2 separate regions of the Homo sapiens genome follow, and region 2 is linked to region 1. Evidence: fine-mapped expression QTL. A gene starts in region 1. The other region holds a variant in brackets. All regions are shown on one strand. Distances are between the middles of the regions.

Region 1 (11,128 bases):
ACCTGTATTCCCAGCTACTCCGGAGGCTGAGGCAGGAGAATGGCGTGAACCCGGGAAGCGGAGCTTGCAGTGAGCCAAGATCATGCCACTGCACTCCAGCCTGGGCAACAGAGCGAGACTCCATCTCAAAAAATAAAAAATTTAAAAAAAACTAAAAATAAATAAATAAATAAAACTTGAGAACCATTGCTCTACAAAAATCATTTCCTTTCTGGTGTCAGCCCCTATTTTTTTCAGGTCAAAATGGAGTTAATTTCTTATCCATGTTGTTCACCTCTGAGATCAGCGTCTCCTTGTCTCTTCCTAAGAAACCTTCTCTCGCCTGTCTCTCTGGCCTTTGATGGTAGTTTTTCTCTGGGCTATTTCTCAGTCCTTGCAGTCTACTTTTAGCAAGTCCTCAGGACACAGTTACTTACTTCTTCCTCCTCCTTAAGCTGCTCTAAAGAAACCCCTTTAGCATCCACAGCTCACACTGCCTAGCTCCAAACTCCCTTTACAATACCCTGCCCAGGGATTCACAGTAACATCTACCGGTTAAAGGTAAAGCCCCATGTGGTTCACAAAACTCATAGCCTTCCTCCTAAATGTTAAAACTACTCAAGATCACTTATTAACAGGTGTTCTCCAAATTTCTTAAATGAACACACACCACGACTACAATAAACAAAATAAAAACAAATTCTACTATTTCACCATTCTAACATACCAAATGCTGTCATTCATTTTTTTACGGCTCACATTTAATTCTTATTCACAACAAAATCAGAATGTAATTAAAATTTTTAATTCTGATTTTCTAACCTAACATCATATCAAACATATTTTCATAACCATCATAACTATGATTTTTAATGACTTTAAAAGAACCCATGGGCTGTGCGCAGTGACGTGCCTGTAATCCTAGCACTTTGGGAGGCCAAGGCAGGAGGATCACTTGATCCCAGGAGATGGAGACCAGGCTGGGCAACAAAGTGAGACCCCGTCTCTACAAAAAAAAAGTTAGCCAAGTGTGGTGGCACACGCCTGTGGTCCCAGCTACTTGGGAGGCTAAGGCAGGAGGATCAAATGAGCACAGGAGGTCAAGGCTGAGTGAGCTGTGATTACACACTGCACTCCAGCCTGGGTGACAAAACAAGACCCTGTCTTAAAAAAAAAAAAAAAAAAAAAAAAACTCATGGAGTTAATGTTGCCAGAACTCCTATTGCTTAGTGTTCAGGGTATTTTCAGATTTTGCTGCTATAAATGATAATACAGTGAATATGTTCATGCATATTACTTTTCTTTGAATTATTTATTCGGAATAAATTTCCAGGGGTGGAATGAATGGATCAAAGTGTATGAACACTTTAATGGCTCTTGATACATATCGTCAAATTGCCATATTTGTATTTTACACAGTTCCTCAGTAGCATGCTAGTAAACGTTTAACAACATGCTTGCCCCCCGCCCCGAAAAAAAAAAGGTGGGGAGCCTGATTTATTGTGTTTGCTGATTTTCACAGTGTACTTTTACCATAGCCAATTTCAAGCCACCATCATGACATCGCTGAATGCAAAATTGAAAACAGATGCTCAGATAGCACAATATTATATAGCATTTCCATCACACAGATAAAGAGAAGTCAATAATGTCACTGGCTTGGAAAATTTCTGAAAATATTACAATCAGCACTTGAGAGCAAGCCGGTTCTAGAACACCACTGTAAACATCTCCCTTGATATTTTGCAACAGCACATCTTTTTTTTTTTTTCATTGAAATCATTGAAAATTCACCCTGTTCCCATCTGTGTGACAATGAGCATGCTTTTAGGTCCATAGATGATGCAAATAATGAATAAAACCTAATGCAAAAAAAAAGGGGGGGATAGAGTGAACATCTAACACCTGTCCGGGTTGAATAATTCTGTCTACCCACCCTCAAACATTCATTTTACCGTGCTTTTTTCCATGAGGTCATGTATACAAATGATTCAATCATTTATTTACTTAACGAGGCACTGAATGGATGACTATACGTAGTTCTCAGGCAAATGTGATGAGAACCGTATCTTCTGTTTCTTAACCACTCTCTTCCTTGGGTTTCTTTTCTACGAAATGGGGAAGAGGTCACTGTGACTTCAGTTTTACGAGAAACTGAGTGCAGAGATAAGAAAGGTTCAACTTGTGCTCTAAGAAGCACTTGAACATTCAGTAATGCTCTGGAAATTTCTTCCAAAAGCAATTCATTAGTATTCTATTTTACCAGAAAAGAATGTGATTTGGTGCTTTCGCTTGAAAGCAACATCCCCTCTTTGGGCTGCCCCGGAATAATATATAGCTTCTACATGTATACAACACTTTGGTTTTTAAATGAGCGGCACCGTACGTTTGCGTGTTAAAATGCGGGTATGACTGAGCTAAACATCCTCATATCCTGGACCCAGTCACCCCGCTCCCGATAACTCATCTCAAGGAATGAACTCAAAACAAAGGAAAATACTTGCTGTGTGAAGATATTAATCACAATAGAGAGTAGATCAATTTGCCTCATTTCAGCACTTATTCAACTTACGGTTTCTGGGGCCCTGGTAGGAGAGTTCTGGATTCTTGGTTCCTAAATCCCCACCTGCAAAACGACCACTTTCCAAGTTGTTTTGGGGCTTGTATTTTTTAATCACACAGATTCCTGGACCTCACGTGAGGGCTGGGGTATGAGACATGGAATTTCAGTTTCTTAAAAGCTCCCCAGGTGGTTTTGCTGTCCAGCCAGCTTTAGAAACCACTATTCCACAGTGAGACACCAGACACATGATCGTGGTCTCTGAACAACTGTCCACATCCGGGGAACAGTATGACAACTTCTTGTGCAAGTCGTCAAAAGGTTGTTCAGGGCATTCAAGCAGTTGCTAGAGTCAAATGGCTAAAGAGCTCACAGAGGAGCCCTAAGTTTCTGGCACCCTTCCACCCCCCTGGGGTCATCCTTTCCATCTCTGACACCCTCCTTGCTCTCACAGCCCACCCCAGCCCCCACACTGTCATGCTGCCTCCCAGCCTCCACCTGTGCACCCCATCCTGACTTGTGCCCATCCCTTTTCATACACAAAGCTCCAGAGTCTCCTCCCTTAGGACACCAGTGGGACTCTAGAAGGAACACTATCACCGTGTGACTCACGTCATCTGCACACATAATTAGGAATCCCCTGCACAATTAACATGCCAGGTGGATTTGCATTTTTTTAAAGGAGGCTTTTAATCCAAAAAAATATTTATAACCTAGAGAGTGGAATGGGGAAGGAGGATGCTTTTTAATCCTGGCTTTCACCCAGATCCAAGCATCCCAAACCCAAATAAGCACTCACTGCCACAATGATCCCCACTCCTAAGTAGAAATGGAATTTTAGCTGTGCCTTGCTAGCACTAAAATTAACACATTGTAAGATAAAATAATTTAATTTAAACTGGGCAAGGAAGAAAGGTCATGCTCTCTGCCTCTAATGAAAAGCACCTCTAGAATTCCACCCCAAGCGTTCAGAGAGCGACGTCAACCAAGGAGGCCCACAAGTAATGCAGCGGATACTGAGAGGACCTCTCTCATCTCATAAGCTAGAGAAACTGTTACCAAATGGCTTAAAATAGCGGTTTCCAAGTTTGTTTTCCTTCTTTCATATGTATTCTCACTAGAAAAACACCCAACCCCTGTGCCTTGTCCATATTTGGTGCTCAAAAAACGTTAATTCCCAGCCTCCACCTGTCACCCTACTTTCCCTGGAAAGGAATGTTGGGATTAGGAGAGTTAGCTTTGCAGGCTTCTTGCTCTTAAGCCAGGGCTCATAACACCTTCATTTGTGGCAATAGCCAAGTCCTTAATAAGAATCATAAGAGTTGCATCTATTGAGAGATTTTTTTTTCAGTCAGGCACTAGGCTACATGCTTTACATATTTTTATCTCATTTGATCTCTACGACAACCCTCTGAGGTAGGTATTTTCAGTTATTATTACTGTTATTAGAGATATTTTGTGAATTTTTTTTTTAATCTGAGCATTGAAGAAGTTAAGTAACTTGTCTGAGGTTCCCACAGCCCAGAAATGATAGAATGATAGAATGGGGATTCCATGCAAAGTGATCTGGCTCAAAAGTTGGGTTCTTATTCACCGTGCTGTATGTTTGTTATTATATGGGTTCAGATATTTTATGGTCCAGAAAAAAAGTGTCTGAATTATTATGATCTACTGACTCTCTAAACAACGTCCAGAAAAAGAACAGAAGCATACCCGTGCCATCTCATTTAGACATGCAAAGAAAGTAGCACATATTTCATGGAATTTGGGGACTGGCTTTTGAGGAATAGAGACTTGCTTATCATTCATCAACCAACTCGTTCTCCCAAGAGGAAGGCCACTTTAATTCCTGGATAATTGAAGGGCCTCCTTAAAATGAAGAAACCAGAGGTGGAGGTCTTACTGGTACCCCGAGCCACACGAACCTTTCTCTGCATAAATGATGTCCTAAGGGAAGACAGTAGAGGGCAAATGGAGGCCCACAGCCAGGCACAGGGATGCAGAAAGCAGCCCCAAGTGGGAAGAGGCCACGCTCGACAAGCTCCCTCTCACATGGAATTCTGCTGGTGCCGTGAGAGCCGAGGAAGCGCAGCCGCAGGGCAGAAGGAGACCAAGGACTATTGAATGGGGTCACTTCTCCCCAGTGCCTGCAAGGTCCTCGCTTTTGTGTCCACACCCTAACTGTCTAATCTGATTTCCTGCAATGTGTAAAACAAACTGTCTTCTCTTCTCCAGTGTCTCTTCAACTGGCCTTATCATCTCCAGGTCAGTCTCGCCTTTGTGCCTTTGCCCACAAGGTCCTCCCAGTCTGAAATCACCTGCCCCTTCTCCTTCTACCGACACTTCGCATTCTTCCAAAGCCCAGATCTTCCTGACAACTCCAGTTTGCCCCCAGGCCCCCTCCATGGAATTCACAGAACTCTTCAAGCCTGTGCTGCCCCACTCATCACTGAATTCTCATCTTGCATTGCTTCCTAAATTTTACTTCTTATCACAACTACCAGATTATAGGGTCCTTCAAAGTAGAGATTTTTAAAATATTTCTCTTATATCCTCCACGGCACCAGCTTAGAACCAATAAGGGGACACCAACTACTTGTTGCCTGCTTGAATACGTCAATGGCAACTTTCATTTAGTAAAGCACCTAAAACCGGTGATTTCCCAAACTTTGTTTAGTTACAACTCAGGCTACTGACTGGTACCTCGTAGCATATCTCCAAATCAAACCACCTCAGAAGAAAGATTAAATTTAATTAAAAAATACATGTTATACATCATAGAGCACTTTTGGGAAATGGTCATTAACATTGGCAATAGGTGAAAAACACAAGCTAGAAATTCCAGATTGAAATCTACATCATTTAGACTTCGGTTCTGTTTCTTTTCTGAACTAGACAACTTTAAAATTCATATTTGCACAACTTAGAGCATCTTTAGATTTACTTCATCAAACCTTGGGTAGTATTTAAACTACCCATACAGTTGAGCTCAGCCACAGTCACAAGCATATGCATTCTCTAGAATATCTGGAAAACCAAAAAGCCAACTATTGTAACTTTTCATGTTTCAAAAATCTTGTTAGGACTGTGGTGAGGGGCAGTGAATATCAAAGCAACACTCACCCCCCCGACCCCCGTCCCCCTGTAAATTGATTCTACACCTTACAGCAGGTAGCTCAGAGTCATTACGATGTTTGGCCTAGAGTAAAAGCTAAATAAAATTAGAAAAATTTCTTTTGACACCAAAGAAATACTTTTAAGGAAGCAAAATCCTTACCTGTTGCAGAATGCCGAAGAAATGTCTTGACAGTAAAATGACTGACTCCGGAAATCAAATTTGTTCAACAAAAGCAGGTGAAAACAAAAGCGGCCCAAGCCTTTTCACTGTGGTTGATTTCCTCATAGGATCAACCTCTCCCTCGTTCCCGAGAATATTAACTGATTCACACTGGAAGAACTGAAAATACAACAGTTGGGCTGGCAGGGAGTCCACCCCAAGATGGTTGGGTTAGTGTGTGTGGGGCAGCAGGAGCAATCCGAATGTGACAAAAGAGATTAGCAAGTTCCTGTGCCTAAGTCAATTTCCTGTAGCCGGCTTCTCCGCAGAGGGGGTTTCATTTGTGTGGGTTTAGGGGGGTGTGTGTGCACGTGCGTTTCTCTCCATTAGAATATGAAACTTCCCCAGATCAGAGGCAGAATAAGGCCTTTGCCGCACCGCTGGGTTTGCGTTTAATTTATCCCCCACCCTACTCCGAGACTATGTTTCTCTCCCCCTTAGCCCCATTTTCCTCCAGCAAAGCCCTACGTAAAACTGAAGAAAGGAAGACTGAAGAGTCCAAATGATTCCTCATGGAAGTAAAATTACCAAAAAAAAAAAAAAAAAAAGTCCATGCCACTGACCAATCTTGGTTAATTTGAGCTTAGGAAACAACACCTTAGAACTTTCCCCCCATCAGCTTGGGGAAAACAAGAGGTGGATTGTCTGCTTCGCTTTGCTGCATTAAAAACTATCAAATATTTTGCAAAGAACAGAGGCAGGCTTAGTGAGAGTTCGAGCAGCCCCCTGCCGTGCGTTCACCCCTGTATGGACGAGCACCTGGGCTGGGAGTTACCTGGCGATGAGTTGTTTTTTCAGACTCCTCAGAGTTTCATTATTTGCCTAAAAACACAAGTTTACTTGTTTTGTCCTAATGGGCAATCCAGGTGTAGAGACCATCTGCAACTACTTAGGTTATGGCTAAACGCCTAACCCAACAAATTGAACTTTTGTGATGTGGTCACAACCGCCTGTGCCCCAAATCCCTGAATAACTAACTGTTGATGCTACTGCTCACGGTGATAGCTTGGTCAAAATACCTGCCGACCGTAAGGATAAAGTCAACTCCATGCCTTTTATTTTATTTTATCAGTGCATCGGCCCCACACTCAAAGATTTGAGTTTAATTGAGCTGGGTTGGGACCGGACATCAATATTATTTTAAACCCCTCTGATTATTCTAAAGTACTGCTGCCACTCTAATGGATGAGAAGGAGGAAAGAACATTCCACGTAGAGGCAAATAGTATGTGCAAAGGCCCTGAGGTGGGAAAGAGGTTGGCATGTTCAAAGAAGTGAAAGCAGATGACTGTGCTTGCAGCATAGTTGTAGAGGGAATCAATGGTACAAGGTGAGCATTCTTATCAATAGACACCCAATTACCAAGTTCACAAGACTTCCACATGAACCCATGTGTCAATTTGTTAATGCACAGTAAGAACTCAATCTGCCAGCTGAGATCCTCGAGCCTTCTGAAGAGCACATTATCTCCTAGAAAATCCTCTGTGGGAGGCCAGGTGCAGTGGCGGTGGCTCACACCTGTAATGCCAGCACTTTAGGAGGCTGAGCGGGGAGCATTGCTTGAACCTAGGAGTTCGGGACCAGCCTGGGCAACGTAGTGAGATCCCATCTCTACAAAAATTAGCTGGGCAACCACACCTGTAGTCCCAGCTACTCAGGAGTCCGAGGCAGGAGGATTGCTTGAACCCATGAGGTTGAGGTTGCAGTGAGCTGTGATCCACCACCACACTCCAGCCTGGGGACACAGCAAGACCCTGTCTCGAAAAAAGAGAGAGAGGGACAGACAGAAGGAGGGAAGGGAAGGAAAAGGAAGAGAAGGGGAGGGAAGGAAGGAAGGAAGGAAGGAAGGAAGGAAGGAAGGAAGGAAGGAAGGAAGGAAGGAAGGAAAAGAAAGAAAGGAAAGAAAGGGAAAATCCTCTGTGGAAAGCCAGATCACCATGGTGATGTTATCAGCTGAGCAGAACATAAGCTTGTGGATATTTTCTTTATCTACTTCTGGTTTTGTTCATCAAAGGATTTAGAGCATCTGGCAAAAATACTTACACCTTAGCAAAATGAAACAATTAAAAACAAGAAATTTGAAAATGAGGCCAAGAGAAGTGAAGACAAAAATGACACTAAAACTGGGGGTGAGGTTAATTACAGAGAATGTATGCCACGTGGTTCTATGCTCTTCAGCAACTGGTATGAAGCAGGAAATATCACCACACAGAAAGCTCATTGCCCGCGGGAGAAACATAAACACATAGCTCAGAATCATGAGGTCTTCCTGGCTCCCCAGTGCTGAGATTAAAGAGAAACTTTGCCCCCTGGATTCCCATAGAGAAGACAACACGGCTGAAGTGAAACACCATGTTTAGACTCCACGCAGCCAGCCACAAGTCCGTGAGGTGGTTCCTTACGCTGTTCCTCCATATATGCTGATTGCATCTCACCGAAGAGTTTACTAAAAGCAACTCCAGGGTGTGCGGCAGGGAGAGTGCAGCAGGAGATTAGTAAGAATGTGCCACCCCACAGCACCACTTTGATGTTCCAGTTTTATCCAGAGATGAAAAATGACTTCATGGGCCGGGCGCAGTGGCTCACGCCTATAATCCCCACACTTTGGGAGGCCGAGGCAGGCGAATTGTTTGAGCCCAGGAGTCCAAGACCAGCCTGAGCAACATAGCGACACCCAGTCTCTAAAATAATACTAATAATAACAATGACAATAGGCCGAGTGCTGTGGCTCACGCCTATAATCCCAAAACTTTGGGAGGCCGAGGAGGGCAGATCGCTTGAGGTCAGGAGTTCGAGACCAGCCTGGCCAACATGGTGAAACCCCGTCTCTTCTAAAAATACAAAAATTAGCCAGGCACGGTAGCTCATGCCTGTAATCCCAGCTACTCGAGAGGCTGAGGCAGGATAATTGCTTGAACCCAGTAGGCAGAGGTTGTAGTGAGGCAAGATCATACCACTGCACTCCAGCCTGGGCAACAGAGTGAGACGTCAGCCTAAAAAATAATAATAATAATAATAATAAAGAAAAATGACTTCAGATATGCTTCAGAAAATTCAGGATAAAAAGTTTCTCTCATCCAAGTTTCTAAAAGATTTAAAGAGGCAAAGAGTTCAAAATTGGTTGCCCCTCCAACAGGAGATCCAGTGTCCTTTAAGGGGGACAATGTCTCCCCTTCAGAAAGCAGAGGAGTCAGACAAGGACAGCTGCCTGTATGGACAGATCCCCTCCATCTCCTAAGTAGAAGGGGAGATGAGGCTCTGCCCTTTGGGAAACAAAGCAAGAAACGCCACCAGCATGATTTATAACGAGCTCCAGGCCTCAGGCCTTGTACCATTTTCTGCACGAAAGTGGAGACGTACTCCAGAGTCAGGATGGACTGGGTGTGTCCCACCCCATCCTGGAAAGGACTAGGAAGGGCATTGTCATACCTGGCTGCGAGACCCCTGTCCCTTTCACCCCCTGGCTGACCACCCTTCTGCTTCTGAAGAACTGGTTTTCTGTGCCTGGAATTGCCAGTTTTAGATGATCTGGTACAGTCCAGCGTTGGGCTTCCTCCTGCTCCTGACCTACACGCCTCTAATCTTCACACAGTTTAATCTCAGAGAGGATTTTCTTAGGGGGAGGGGACAGGGGGTTGCCATCTAATTTTCTTCCTTCCTTGAAAATGTCTTTTTGGTGTTTCTCTCTTTCTCTCTCCCCACTCCCCTCCTCCCCCACCCCGCCCCTCCTCTCCTCTCTCTCTCTCTCTCTCTCTCTCTCTCGCTCTCATTCTTTTAACAGACTTTTAACCGACAGGGGTAGTGGTGAGGGGAGGAAGCAAACGCTGAAAATACATGCAAACATTCACAGACATACACGCACCCAAGCCCCAGGGCGTGTCCCTTCTGACGCTGTGCAGTCTGTCCTTGGGATGGGGTTGGGAGAAATCCTGGGGACTTCAGAGTGGCAGGAGGAGGGAAACCATGGGTCCACAGTTCGTAACTGGGAATCAGAGCCCCCCTCTGAGCCATCTTCCAGGAAGCCATCTGTAGCCACCACCCACCTCCATTGCAAGCCCAGTGAGGTGCCCTCCCAAGGGCTCCATAGCACGTCGTGTTAACACGGCCAGAGCACTCACCAAATGGCCCTGCAGTGTTCACTTCAGAGGTCCCAGGGCTCAGGGTCCAGCCTTGCCCACTCAGAAATCCAAGGTACTGAACAACCACTTTCTGACCAATAAATAGATTGATTCTCCCATCTCACAGCCTCACAGCTGCCCTTTATGGTAAACACTTTAAACCCTATTTTAACAGCCAAGGAAACAGAGACTTCAGCTGGTTAAATGATTTGCATAAGACCCTATGGCCTAAGAAAACCAGAACCAAGATTCACCCCATTCATCTGTCCTGGCTGTCACTCCCGCTGCCTCCCCACAGAGAGAACTGAACCACCGTGGGCAACGAGGAGCAGCCAGAGCCCCAAGGCCCATTTTCTTGGCCCTAAACATGCCCCCTCCAGGATTCCCTGTGCAAACGGTCCCCTTCAGGTCAAGGTGAAAAAGCAAAGACTTACTTTCTCAAAACCACCTTCATCAGAAATGTTCTCTGATATGGCAAAAGAACAGCTTACTTTAATATTCTCCTGTGAACAAAGACCTCTTTTATTGAGGTTTTTTAAATAATATGACAACTACTTGTGTACCCTGAACTCATGCATAAGTACTATGTTTGCTCATTGCAAAGGTGTTGTGCCACTTACGCCAGCGAAAACTCTTAATGACAATTGTAATTGTATGAATAGTAAATCTTAGAAACCTTGAGACTTGAGTCATCTACTAAATTATTTCAACGCTGGGTTAGTAAGATGCCTTTCCCTCCCCCTTGCTATTAGCATATTAACAGAAATGATGTAGATTCAGTGGGTAGCTTTTAATGTTTACACAGACCCTCATTTATGCCACCTAATAAAATATTTCAGTGAGTTGTGAAGATAGGTAATATGTACTAAAACCTTGTCTGAAGGCTTTGAATTTCAAACTCAGGCCATTAGTCGTATTGCAATTATTCTCACCCAGCTCCCCACTGGATGATGAACAACTGTATTAAAACAAAATATCCTTTCTTTCTGATTGAGAGATTTCATGATGGGAACTATAAAATGTTAAGAGAATGATCTTAATTCTGATGTAACTTTTAGTGTAAAAATACATTCATATAAAATACTTTTTAAATGCTGAATATTGAAATAGCTTCAAAATGCCACAGGCTAGAAAT
Region 2 (11,128 bases), 61 kb before region 1:
CCAAATTATCCTTAAGAACTCTGATCCCCAAATGCTCAGGGAGATTGATTTGAGTAACAATAAGACTCCAGTCTCCCGCACAGCCGGCTCTACATGAATTACTCTCTCTCTCTTTTTTTTTTTTTATTTTTGAGACGGAGTCTCACTCTGTCACCCAGGCTGGAGTGCAGCGATTCAGTCTCGGATCACTGCAACCTCTGCCTCTTGGGTTCAAGCAATTATCTGCCTCAGCCTCCCAAGTAGCTGGGATTACAGGTGCCCGCCACCACACCCAGCTACCTTTTTTGTATTTTCAGTAGAGACGGGGTTTCACCACCTTGGCCAGGCTGGTCTTGAATTCCTGACCTCGTGATCCACCTTCCTCGGCCTCCCAAAGTGCTGGGATTATAGGCATGAGCCACCACACCCGGCCTGAATTACTCTTTCTCTATTGCAATTCCCCTGTCCTGAGAAATCAACTCTGTCTAGGCACCCAGCAAGGTGAACCCATTGGGTGGTTACGGTAATACCCTGGAACTCCAGGACTCTACTTGAGGAGATGTAAGGACAGCAAAACTCCATCCACTTCCATGCTCTTAGGGTCTCAGCTGGGCACAAAGGCTAAATTGATGTAAGATCGATTAACAGGAGAAAAGCATACAACTTTATTTCATATAAGTTTTACATGGCACGGGAGCCCTGCTAAGGAAATGAAGACGCCCAAAGAAGCAGCTAGAGTCAGTTACTTATTAATATATACTGGATTGGACCAAGAGTAGTAAGTTGTGAAGAAGCAACTAAATTATGTAGAGAGGCTTAAAAGATAAGAGTTATTTGAACAAGGTCTGTGCAGAATACTCCTGGTCTCTACTTCTCAACCTCAAAGATAAGGATGTTGTGTCTTTCACACTCGAATTTCATCTGCTTTTTTTTTTTTTTTTTTTGAGACGGAGTTTCGCTCTTGTTGCCCAGGCTAGAGTGCAATGGCGCGATCACAGCTCACTGCAACCTCCACTTCCTGGGTTCAAGCAATTCTTCTGCCTCAGCCTCCCAAGTAGCTGGGGTTACACGCGTGCACCACCACGACTGGCTAATTTTGTATTTTTAGTAGAGATGAGGTTTCACCATGTTGGTCAGGCTGGTCTGGAACTCCCGACCTGAGATGATCCACCCGCCTTGGCCTCCCAAAGTGCTGGGATTACAGGTGTGAGCCACCATGCCCGGCCCATCTCCTGCTTTTAAGAAACAGCACAGAGGTCGGAGTGACCTTGCACCCACTGTTTTCCATATACCTTTAACTTAAAAGTCAATATGCCAGAATGGCATGTTTTGGATGGCATATTCTTAATTCTTTCAGAGATCAGGGGTCCATAGTCATCACCATCATAATCATCATCATGTGCATGTAGGGTGCACTAATACATGCTGGGCAGATACCACGCCCTTTCCATTCCATATTCACTCTCACAGCCACCTCCTGAGGTATTATTGTCTCCATTTCACAGATGACAAAACTGAGACTCAGAAATACTATAAAGCTTTCTCAGGGTCACTGAGTCCCACCAACTCCATCAACCCATCAGAATTCTCTCCTTCCCTCTCTTTAGTTATGACCACGTGTTGTAACTGTATTGCAGCCTTTCTTCAAGTGAAATGGCCTCTAGGAGTCTATTTCCAAGATTCACACTTGATAGGGCATTTTATAGGAAAAGAGAATGGCCAGACAGTCATTGTTAGACTAGACACAGAATAAAAGAATGGCTGGTTAGGCCAGACATGGTGGCTGACGCCTGTAATCCCAGCACTTTGGGAGGCTGAGGGGGGCTGATTGCCTGAGGTCAGGAGTTTGAACCCAGCCTGGCCAACACGGTGAAACCCCTGTTTCTACTAAAAATACAAAAATTACCAGGCGTGGTGGCACACGCCTGTAGTCCCAGCTACTTGGGAGGCTGAGGCAGAAGAATCACTTGAACCCGGGAGGTGGAGGTTGCAGTGAGCCGAGATTGCCCCACTGCACTCCAGCCTGGGTGACAGAGCAAGACTCCATCTTAAAAAAAAAAAAAAAAAAAAAAATATATATATATATATATATATATATATATATATGGTTAAAGGTCAACTGGGCTGTTGTCTGAAAGTCTGCAGGGGGTCAGGGAGCAGGGTAGGTGTGACTTGTTTCCCAGAACAAGCCTTAATCCCATCAAAGTCCATCAGAAAACAGCTTGGGCATTTTATCAGGAGCACTGAGTTTCTCCCCAGAAGGAAGTTGTGAATTACATCACATCCAAAAAAGGGTCTGTCCCAGACCAGGCCTGGGGCAATTTTTCTTTTCAGTGCTATCATGGTGAACATGACATTCTATTGATGACTAGACTATTCCAATTCAATTATATAATCATAACACATGGTCATGGTGTCACAGCAATCACTTGAGAACAGAATAAGCCCAAATCATCTATATGTCTGGCTTATAACAGATATGTAATGAATGTTTTATTCTGTGAATGAGTGAACTTCCCTAAACGGAGAAGGAATGAGTGAATTAGATCATCACTGTTCAAAGTGCAACCTGCCATCCAGGGCAGGTCTGTAAACTGTTACTGGACCATGGCAAGGTGAGAAAGAAAATAAACTTTTTATCTGAGGAATATGAGCCCTTTTAAGTGATCAGGCCCAGAGAGGCATTAAAATGAGACAGCAGTCATGGCTCACTCCACCCCCTACCTGTAGGAAATCAGTCAGGGTGGTAGGAAAAATTATAGGGAAAGACACAAACCTTCTTAGAAGGCAGGGAGGTTTTGCAAAAGCTTCAGGAGAGGATTATGGCTGAAGGCAGCCAAATTCTCTTGTCCGGGGGCTGAGAACAAAAGGCAGATAACAGGGGAATGTAAAGGAACTTATCTAGATAAATCTGTTTACTTATGTCTCCAGAAACCAACCTTTGCTCATTCGTGTGCAGGACTGCTCTCTACTTGGGGGGGTCGACAATGTTAATCACCCCAAATTGTGTTTGCTCCAAGCCTTTGTCGTTAAATCTGTACTAAATAAATGCGAGTGTCTCTGGCTTATGGGAGCTGCTGCTGCTGCACTCTTGCTGGTGGTGCTAAGCGGCAGTCCCCTAGCCACGCTGTCAGGTAAAACACCTGTGTCAGCGTACTTCCTTCATCCATCTCTCAGCCAGAGTCTGGCAGCAACTACCACCTTGAGCTAAGTATTTATTTTGAAGCCTCCTGCTATATAGACTCTAGACTGAATGTCTCCACCAAGTACCCATAAATTTACCTAACATATGCCATATGCTAGACAACATTATTCACACACTATAGTTCAACAACATATAGTCAATTACTAATCAATGTTATCCCTGTAACCCTGCAAAAATTCCTGAAAAAACAACTTTTGCAATTGCCCTCTCTCCTGATTGATCCTTTTTTCCTTAAAAACCTCTCCTTTATTCTCAGGAGAACTTCTCAGTGTTTCCTCGGTTGCAGTCCTTAGCCTTGGCCCAAATGGACTCTATATTAATTTTGCCTCAATTTCCTCCTTTAGGTTGACAAAGGTAAGCACAGAAATCGAGAGAATGACATATGGAAAAAGTTTTATAGCAACTGGACAATGTATGTTGAGTCTAAATAATGCAGGAGTTCGGCCAGCACGGTGGCTCATGCCTGTAATCTCAGCACTTTGGGAGGCTCAGGCAGGGGGATCACCTGAGGTCAAGAGTTCCAGACCAGTCTGGCCAACACGGTGAAACCCTGTCTCTCCTAAAAATACAAAAATTAGCCAGGCATGGTGGCAGGTGCCTGTAGTCCCAGCTACTTGGGAGGCTGAGGCAGGAGAATCGCTTGAACCCGAGAGGCGGAGGTTGCAGTGCGTCCAGATTGCACCATCGCACTCCAGCCTGGGTGACAAGGGTGAAACTCCTTCTCAAATAATTATAATAATAAAGGAGTTAAGAAGAAACTGCTTAGGCAGTTAGTGAGGGTATGGGAGTCCTCGGTAAGGTTTTCCTTTTTGTTATTTATTTTATTTTATTTTATTTTATTTGAGACGGAGTCTCCCTCTGTCCCCCAGGCTGGAGTGCAGTGGCGCGATCTCGGCTCACTGCAAGCTCTGCCTCCCGGGTTCACGTCATTCTCCTGCCTCAGCCTCCCGAGTAGCTGAGACTACAGGCGCCTGCCACCACGTCTGGCTAATTTTTTGTATGTTTTTAGTAGAGACAGGGTTTCACCGTATTAGCCAGGAAGGTCTCGATCTCCTGATCTCGTGATCCACCTGCCTCGGCCTCCCAAAGTGCTGGGATTACAGGCGTGAGCCACAGCGCCAGGATTACAGGCGTGAGCCACAGCGCCTGGCAAGGTTTTCCTTTTTAATGAAAAGTAGCCCCAAAATCATTTTCTAACACAGAACAGCCTGTAAAATCGAGCTGCAAACATAGACAAGCAAGTGGAAAGCTTGCACAGGTGAATGCCAGCAGGAAAAAAGCTACCTGGGACTAGGCATGTTCAAAATGGCGGCTCCATCTTCCCTTCTCTTTGCCAGCCATGTGTATAGTAAGGAGCAGACAATATGGCGCAAGTCAAGTGGAAAGCCCATTTAATGGCATGGTAAGATTAGGGTGGGGTGGCCAGCCTTCACCGAGCACTATGTAAACGTCACACCTGATCAAACCAATCTGTGGGCCCTATGTAAATCAGACACCGCCTCCTCCAGCCTGCCTATAAAATCCGGTGCACTCCGCCACTGGCTTGTCTTTCCTTATGGAAGGCACTCTCTCTCACTAGAGAAAGAGCTATTCTCCTTTCTCTTTATTTTGCCTATTAAACCTCCACTCCTAAATTCCTTGTGTGTGTGCATGTCCTGAATCTTCTTGGCGCAAGATGATGAACCCTGGGTATTTACCCAAGACGATGCCGCGTCATAATAATAATAAAAAAATAGATTTACATTTTAATATGTTCTTGGTTTTTGTTTTTTCTTTTTTTTTCCTACGAATTCTTTGTCCTTCCCCCTCACCCCCCCGACTTGGAATTCACTGTGCTTTTAAACAGTATACAGCTGTAGTGATTGGGTTTTGTTTGTTTGTTTTATTTTAAGATTCTTCACCACAGCAGTTAATCAGATGATAATAGACCCGCTGGGAAGGGCAGACTTCAGCATATGAGAGGTTCCATTCCCTTTTTTTTTTTTTTTTTTTTTTTTTGAGATGGAGTCTCTCTGTCACCAGGCTGGAGTGCAGTGGCTCGATCTCAGCTCACTGCAGCCTGCCCCTCCTGGGTTCAAGCAATTCTTCTGCCTCAGCCTCCCGAGTAGCTGGGATTACAAATGTGTGCCAACACGCCCAGCTAATGTTTTTGTATTTTTGGTAGAGATGGGGATTCACCATGTTGGCCAGGATGGTCTTGATCTCTTGAACCCCTTGATCTGCCTGCCTCGGCCTCCCAAAGTGCTGTGATTACAGGCGTGAGCCACTGTGCCCAGCTGAGAGGTTCCATTCCTAAGAAAATGCCCTGGCAGAGAAAGGAACCCTGAGTCCCCTCTACACAAACTTTTAGCCAGTCAAACCTAACAACAGCCCCACCTCAGCTGACCAGTCTTTTTCTGGAGGAGAGGGAAGTTAGAGGTGTCCATTCAGGGTTCCCCATCTGAAGCTTCTTAGAGCCGTGCTGCAGCTTGAAGCCTCAGCACGTGTTCTCCCTACCCCACCCCCAAGCTTCAGAAAGAACCAGGGAGAATCAGAGACCTTAGCATCGAAGCAGAGCGAAATCCGAGGCTC[G/T]GTGTTGTGGCAGGATGGGGGTTTTCTTCCCCCCTTCCCCACTCCTTTCCTTCCTCCCCTCGGCCCCCTCCCCTTTCTTCCTGGGGGGAAGTCTGTTAAAATGGAGGAAAGTGACTAGGCGAGCCTAAAACACACAGCAGTTTCTTCTGACTGGTGTCAAGAGTATCAAGAGGGAGGCGTGTTGGTTTCCTAGCTGTTCTACTCTGGGTCATCCGCAAGGCTTGAGCCTCCTCCGGGGACAAAGGGAATCTGATACAGCACCTTCACCATGGAGGCCAACCTTGCAGGAAAGGCAGAGAAGGACGGCAGAAAAAGATGGAGGCCGGGGTGGGGATGCGAAGGAGCAGCAAAGACAGAGAGAGGAGAGCCGGCCGATGGTCGCCACACTCTGGAAGGAACGTGCAGGTGACTTGAAAGGAAGTTAAAGAAATCTCTGTGGCCAGGCGCGGTGGCTCATGCCTGTAATCCCAGCACTTTGGGAGGCCGAAGCAGGCAGAACACCTGAGGTTACGAGTTGGAGACCAGCCTGGCCAACATGGTAAAACCCTGTCTCTACCAAAAATACAAAAATTAGCTGGGCATGGTGGCAGACACCTGTAATCCCAGCTACTCAGGAGGCTAAGGTGGGAGGATTGCTTGAACCCGGGAGGCGGAGGTTGCAGTGAGCCAAGATCACACCACTGCATTCCAGCCTGGGCAACAGAGTAAGACTCAGAAAAAAAAAACAAAACTCTCTGGACTTTACATCTGTCATACTAAGATTTTTCTTTCCAGGATTGGGATGTTCCCTATAAGCCCTCCCAGTTTATGTAACCAAGGAGTTAGAATGTGCAACCCAATAGGTGGGCCCATTATTGGAAGGGTGGTAGTCAGGAGGCCAGGCTGGGGGCCAGGTTGCCGGGACTGAATCCTGACTCTACCACATGCCAGTGTCTTACCTTGAGTAAGTTTCCTCATCTGTAAAGGGTGGATGAAAATTCTACTTTTATCTTGGGTGCTTACAATAAGTAAATAAATTAATATATGTAAAGTACATAGTGCTGGATATATCTGAGGTTATTACTATGAGTCTAAGCAAGGCTATTTATATATGTGTATGTATATATCTATTTGTGTGTGTGTATATATATATATGCATGTGTGCATGCACACATACACACACACACACACCCCTTAGAAGCCCATGGATACAATTAACAAACATGGTTACAGGTTCCTTGGAAAAATCTAGGCTAACACACTGCCATTACACAGTGTAGGAGTATGTATATTCGTTAACATACTGATACTGAAAGCTGTTCACAATATAATAAATGAAAAAAGTAGATTGCAAATCAGATTGCACCATACGAACCTATTTTTGTAAAAATACACACATATGTGGATAAGAAAAAGTCTGGAATGGTAGAGACAAAAAAAGATGTAACAGTAGCTATTGAAGTGTTTTTTATTATCATTTTGTTTCATTGCTTCTAATCTTTTCACCAATGAATGTGCAATATCTGTGGGTTTTCTTAGGATAGACATAGAAAGACATCAATATAAAGAATCTCTTTCCGTTATGATTTCTTTCACTTGTGCCAACCAGGCTAGATTGCAGATTTTCCTGAGGAGCATTTGGGGAAAGGGGTGGGAGAGTATCTCTGGGGTGCCCCTGAACACACAAAGCCCCAGCCTGAGTTGTTCAGGACACACAGCTCTAGCAGTTGAGCTTATTGCTAATAAGCCAGGCAGTGCCTCTGGCTGGCTGGCGTGTCCTGTGTCTTCCTGTTCTCTACTCACTGGTTTCATGTGCTAGCCTTTGTCTCTGACATTTTCTTTCTTTTTTTTTTTCTTGAGATGGAGTCTCTCTCTGTCACCCAGGATGGAGTGCAGTGGTATGATCTTGGCTCGCTGCAACCTCTCCCTCCTGGGTTCAAGTGATTCTCCTCCCTCAGCCTCCCAAGTAGCTGGGACTACAGGTGCCTGCCACCACGCCCAGCTAACTTTTGTATTTTTAGTAGAGACGGGGTTTCACTATGTTGGCCAGGCTGGTCTGGAAATCCTGACCTCAGGTGATCTGCTCGCTTCAGCCTCCCAAAACGCTGGGATTACAGGCATGAGCCACCACACCCAGCAGCCTTTAAACTTCCATCACAGAAACCTGAAACGAATAGGCAGAGTCCAAAGCTCCATGTTAGAGGCTGGAAGTTCTGAGGCCTGCAGGAACAAGTGAGAGCCCTTGGGAGCCAAAGCCTGGCCCTCAAGTCCCGACTTGCCCAAAGCCATCTGTGTGTCTTGGGCAAAGAGGAGAGTCAGTTTCTTCATCTGTAAGATGATAGGATTGGGCTAAATCCTCCCTGAGGTCCCCTTCAACTCCAAAAAATGGGAGTCCAGTAAATAACAGAGAAGCCGGGGAAAATGTTCTGCCATGTTGATTTAGGTTTGAGCTCAATGAAAGGATCTACACTAACAAGAGATTAAAAAAAAATTGTATGGGTTTGCATGCAGTATCCAGAGAAGTAAGGTAAATACAGTTTGAGGCCTGGATTTATGGATTATTTCCTTCTTTCTGACTTTTCCATTTGTTAAACAGAGATAGCATCAATATCTGTTTACTCAATGAATGCCTAGCAGACAACCACACAGTAAGTGGGTTCAGTTAAAAAAATATGCTCTGACAATAAGGGTGAAAATAGTGACAGCCAAGGCTTGGATGGAAGACCTCACTTCTGGTCAGTGAGTGCATGTGTGTGGCCTGGATGAGCCATGTCACCCTCCTGGACCTCATCTCTTACACTAACACCTCACAGGGTCATCCAGAGCATCAGATGAAAGCATCATCGAATGGAAAAAAGGGAGTTTGGAGCAAGAGATCTAAGTACAAATCCTGATTCTGCCAAGCATTAGTTACATGGTCACAGATGAGTCATTTAGCATTCCTGAACCTTAGCTTCCTTGCCTGCAAAATGAGTCAAGTAATAATAACCCACAGCATTGCTGTGATGTCATAGGAGACAGTGTACACAAAGTACTTTATAACCTCTAGAGTGCTGACCAAATGCTGGCAATTGTTATAATAAGACAAGGAAAAGCACTTTGGAAAATTTTAAAGTACTAAATGAATTAATGTGTGGAGTTGATGACTGTGAGGATTGATTCACTTAAGAAATGTGGTTCAGCATTACTATGGGCACAGCACTGTTTGATGCTAGAGCAATCAAAGTTGGGTGAGAGAGGTACCCCCGGGCTGCAGACAGAAGCGATGAAGAGGAGGAAGAGAAAGGGGAGAGGGAGGAGATGTATTTGAGAAGTACACATGTGCAGTGATTTACCTAGGGCTGTCTGAAAACTTTTTAAAAAAATATCTTCAGTCCAACACCTCAGTAAGTCAATTCCCCAAGACAACAGATCTACGATGCAACAACTGCCCTTGGGTTAGCTCTGGTGACTCACTTGTAAATTGCACCCATATCTGTTTCAATTAGTGTAAAAGTTCTACAGACAGACTGTGCCGCCTTATTATGTTCTATTTAAACAAGGCTACAAAGGACGTTCAACTGCATCAATAGTTGGGCTCCAGCAAGCTGCAGCCTCGCTGCTTCTCAACCCTGTGCTGCCACAAGCACACATGCTCAGCCTGCAGATTCTTGGAATCTCTCCTCAGGGCCCTGCAGGCGAGGTCTTCACTCTGAGTCCTATGTAGGCCCTGAGTTCTAGTCATTTCCTTCCTTTTGTGCAGAATCCATTAGAAACCGCTTGCCTGTGTAACCCCCCAGCACCACCCTGGTTCTATGAATCATGCCAATTTTCTGTTCTGCTCTATTTGATAATCCATCCCCTCAAACTGCCCCAATTCAGTCATTCCCAGCAGGCAGACAGATGGATTAGAATCCCCAATGAAGGCAGTCACTGCTGGAGGGTGCTGTGCAATATTGAACACTCATCATGGTAAAAAGCATGTGTGTCCCTCGCAGGGCAATAGGGAAAAACCTAAGCCTGCTTTCTTTTACAAAGAGGTTGTTTGTGTTAAAACCAGATCACTGATGTGGTCTGTCAACATCATTCGGGCCTCTGCTCTATCAGGCCTCCCTATCCTACCAAAATGCTAAATATCCTCTCTCCCTTTTCCTAATTTATTTTCTTAATAGCACCGAACATCCATCTACATTGTTCATTGTTCTTTTTTTTTTTTTTGAGACAGAGTCTCTTTCTGTCGCCCAGGCTGGAGTGCAGTTGCATGATCTCGGCTCACTGAAACCTCCGCTTCCTGGATTCAAGCGATTCTCGTGCCTCAGCTTCCCAAGTGGCTGGGACTACAAGCGCCCACCACCATGCCTGGCTAATTTTTTGTATTTTAGTAGAGACAGGGTTTCACTGTGTTAGCCAGGATGGTCTCGATCTCCTGACCTCATGATCCACCCGCCTCGGCCTCCCAAAGTGCTGGGATTACAGGCGTGAGCCACTGCACCCAGCTACATTGATCTTATCTGTTTATTTTATAACTACTGTTCACACCCCTATCCCTAATTAAATCCTTAAACTCTATGAAAGCGGGAACTTTGGCTATTGCACAGCTTGACACTAAGGCCAAGGTGCAATGATAGAAACACAAGTAAATAATTAGGAAACAACACGGCAAGTCCAGCTATGGAGAGATGCTCTGTGAGTCACTGAGTCCTCCACTTTCTCTGAATAAACCCCGTAAAGAACCTAAAGAACTCAGTACATTCTGAGTAAATAAACAAGTGAATGGAGATGTCTTCACATACGATAAGGGACTGAGCCTCTGTTGATCCCTTCTGTGAGATATTGAAAGTTACCTATTTGTGCTAAGAAACAATACTAGAAAGAATTCAAGTACAGCAAACATGGGTTGAAAAGCAAGTGTATGAAAAGCGAACAAGTAAAAACCCCAGGTTCCTCTCTTCTTAGGAAGTTTACAGAAAAGAGCAGCAAAGAGTAGGACGAGTGAGGTGGTCTGGGTCTACCACCAATTTGTGGGCTTAGGCAGGTCAGGCAATGGTCTCAATACCTGTGTCTTCATCCATAAACAGTAGAATCCTGCCAGCTCTGAGGTGTATAACAGTAGAATGACATAGCTGCCATTTATTGTACTAGACATAGTGTAGCCTTTACCCACATTAGCTCCTTTAATGCTCACTATGTTATTTTCTCCATTTTACAGATGAGGAAACTGACACACAAAGAGGTTAGTTAACTTACACAAGGCTGTAGAGCCTAGTGAGTGGCAGAGCTGAGATTCAAGTTCAGACAGTTTTGCTTTAGAACCCAAACTTTAAATTTTTTTAATTAATTATATCATACACACAAAAGAATACATAAAATATATCTGGATATTTTGAAGAATAAATAATAGGAAAAAATCAATGA

Evidence for each region.
Region 2: its variant is fine-mapped to the expression of RHOH in whole blood (TOPMed, PIP above 0.99).

Annotation. Positions count from the first base shown.
Region 1 is chr4:40,191,989-40,203,116 of GRCh38, reverse strand. RHOH (ras homolog family member H) reads right to left here and starts at 6,086. Exons shown (of 3, transcript NM_004310.5): 1 at 5,817-6,086. RefSeq lists enhancers at 5,014-5,113, 8,291-8,340, 8,381-8,590, 9,080-9,219, 9,740-10,099.
Region 2 is chr4:40,253,387-40,264,514 of GRCh38, reverse strand. No RefSeq gene overlaps it. Among named protein-coding and RNA genes, the nearest start is that of LINC02265, 48 kb to the left of the region's middle. RefSeq lists an enhancer at 5,705-6,483. The variant G/T (reference allele first, on the strand shown) is at 5,756.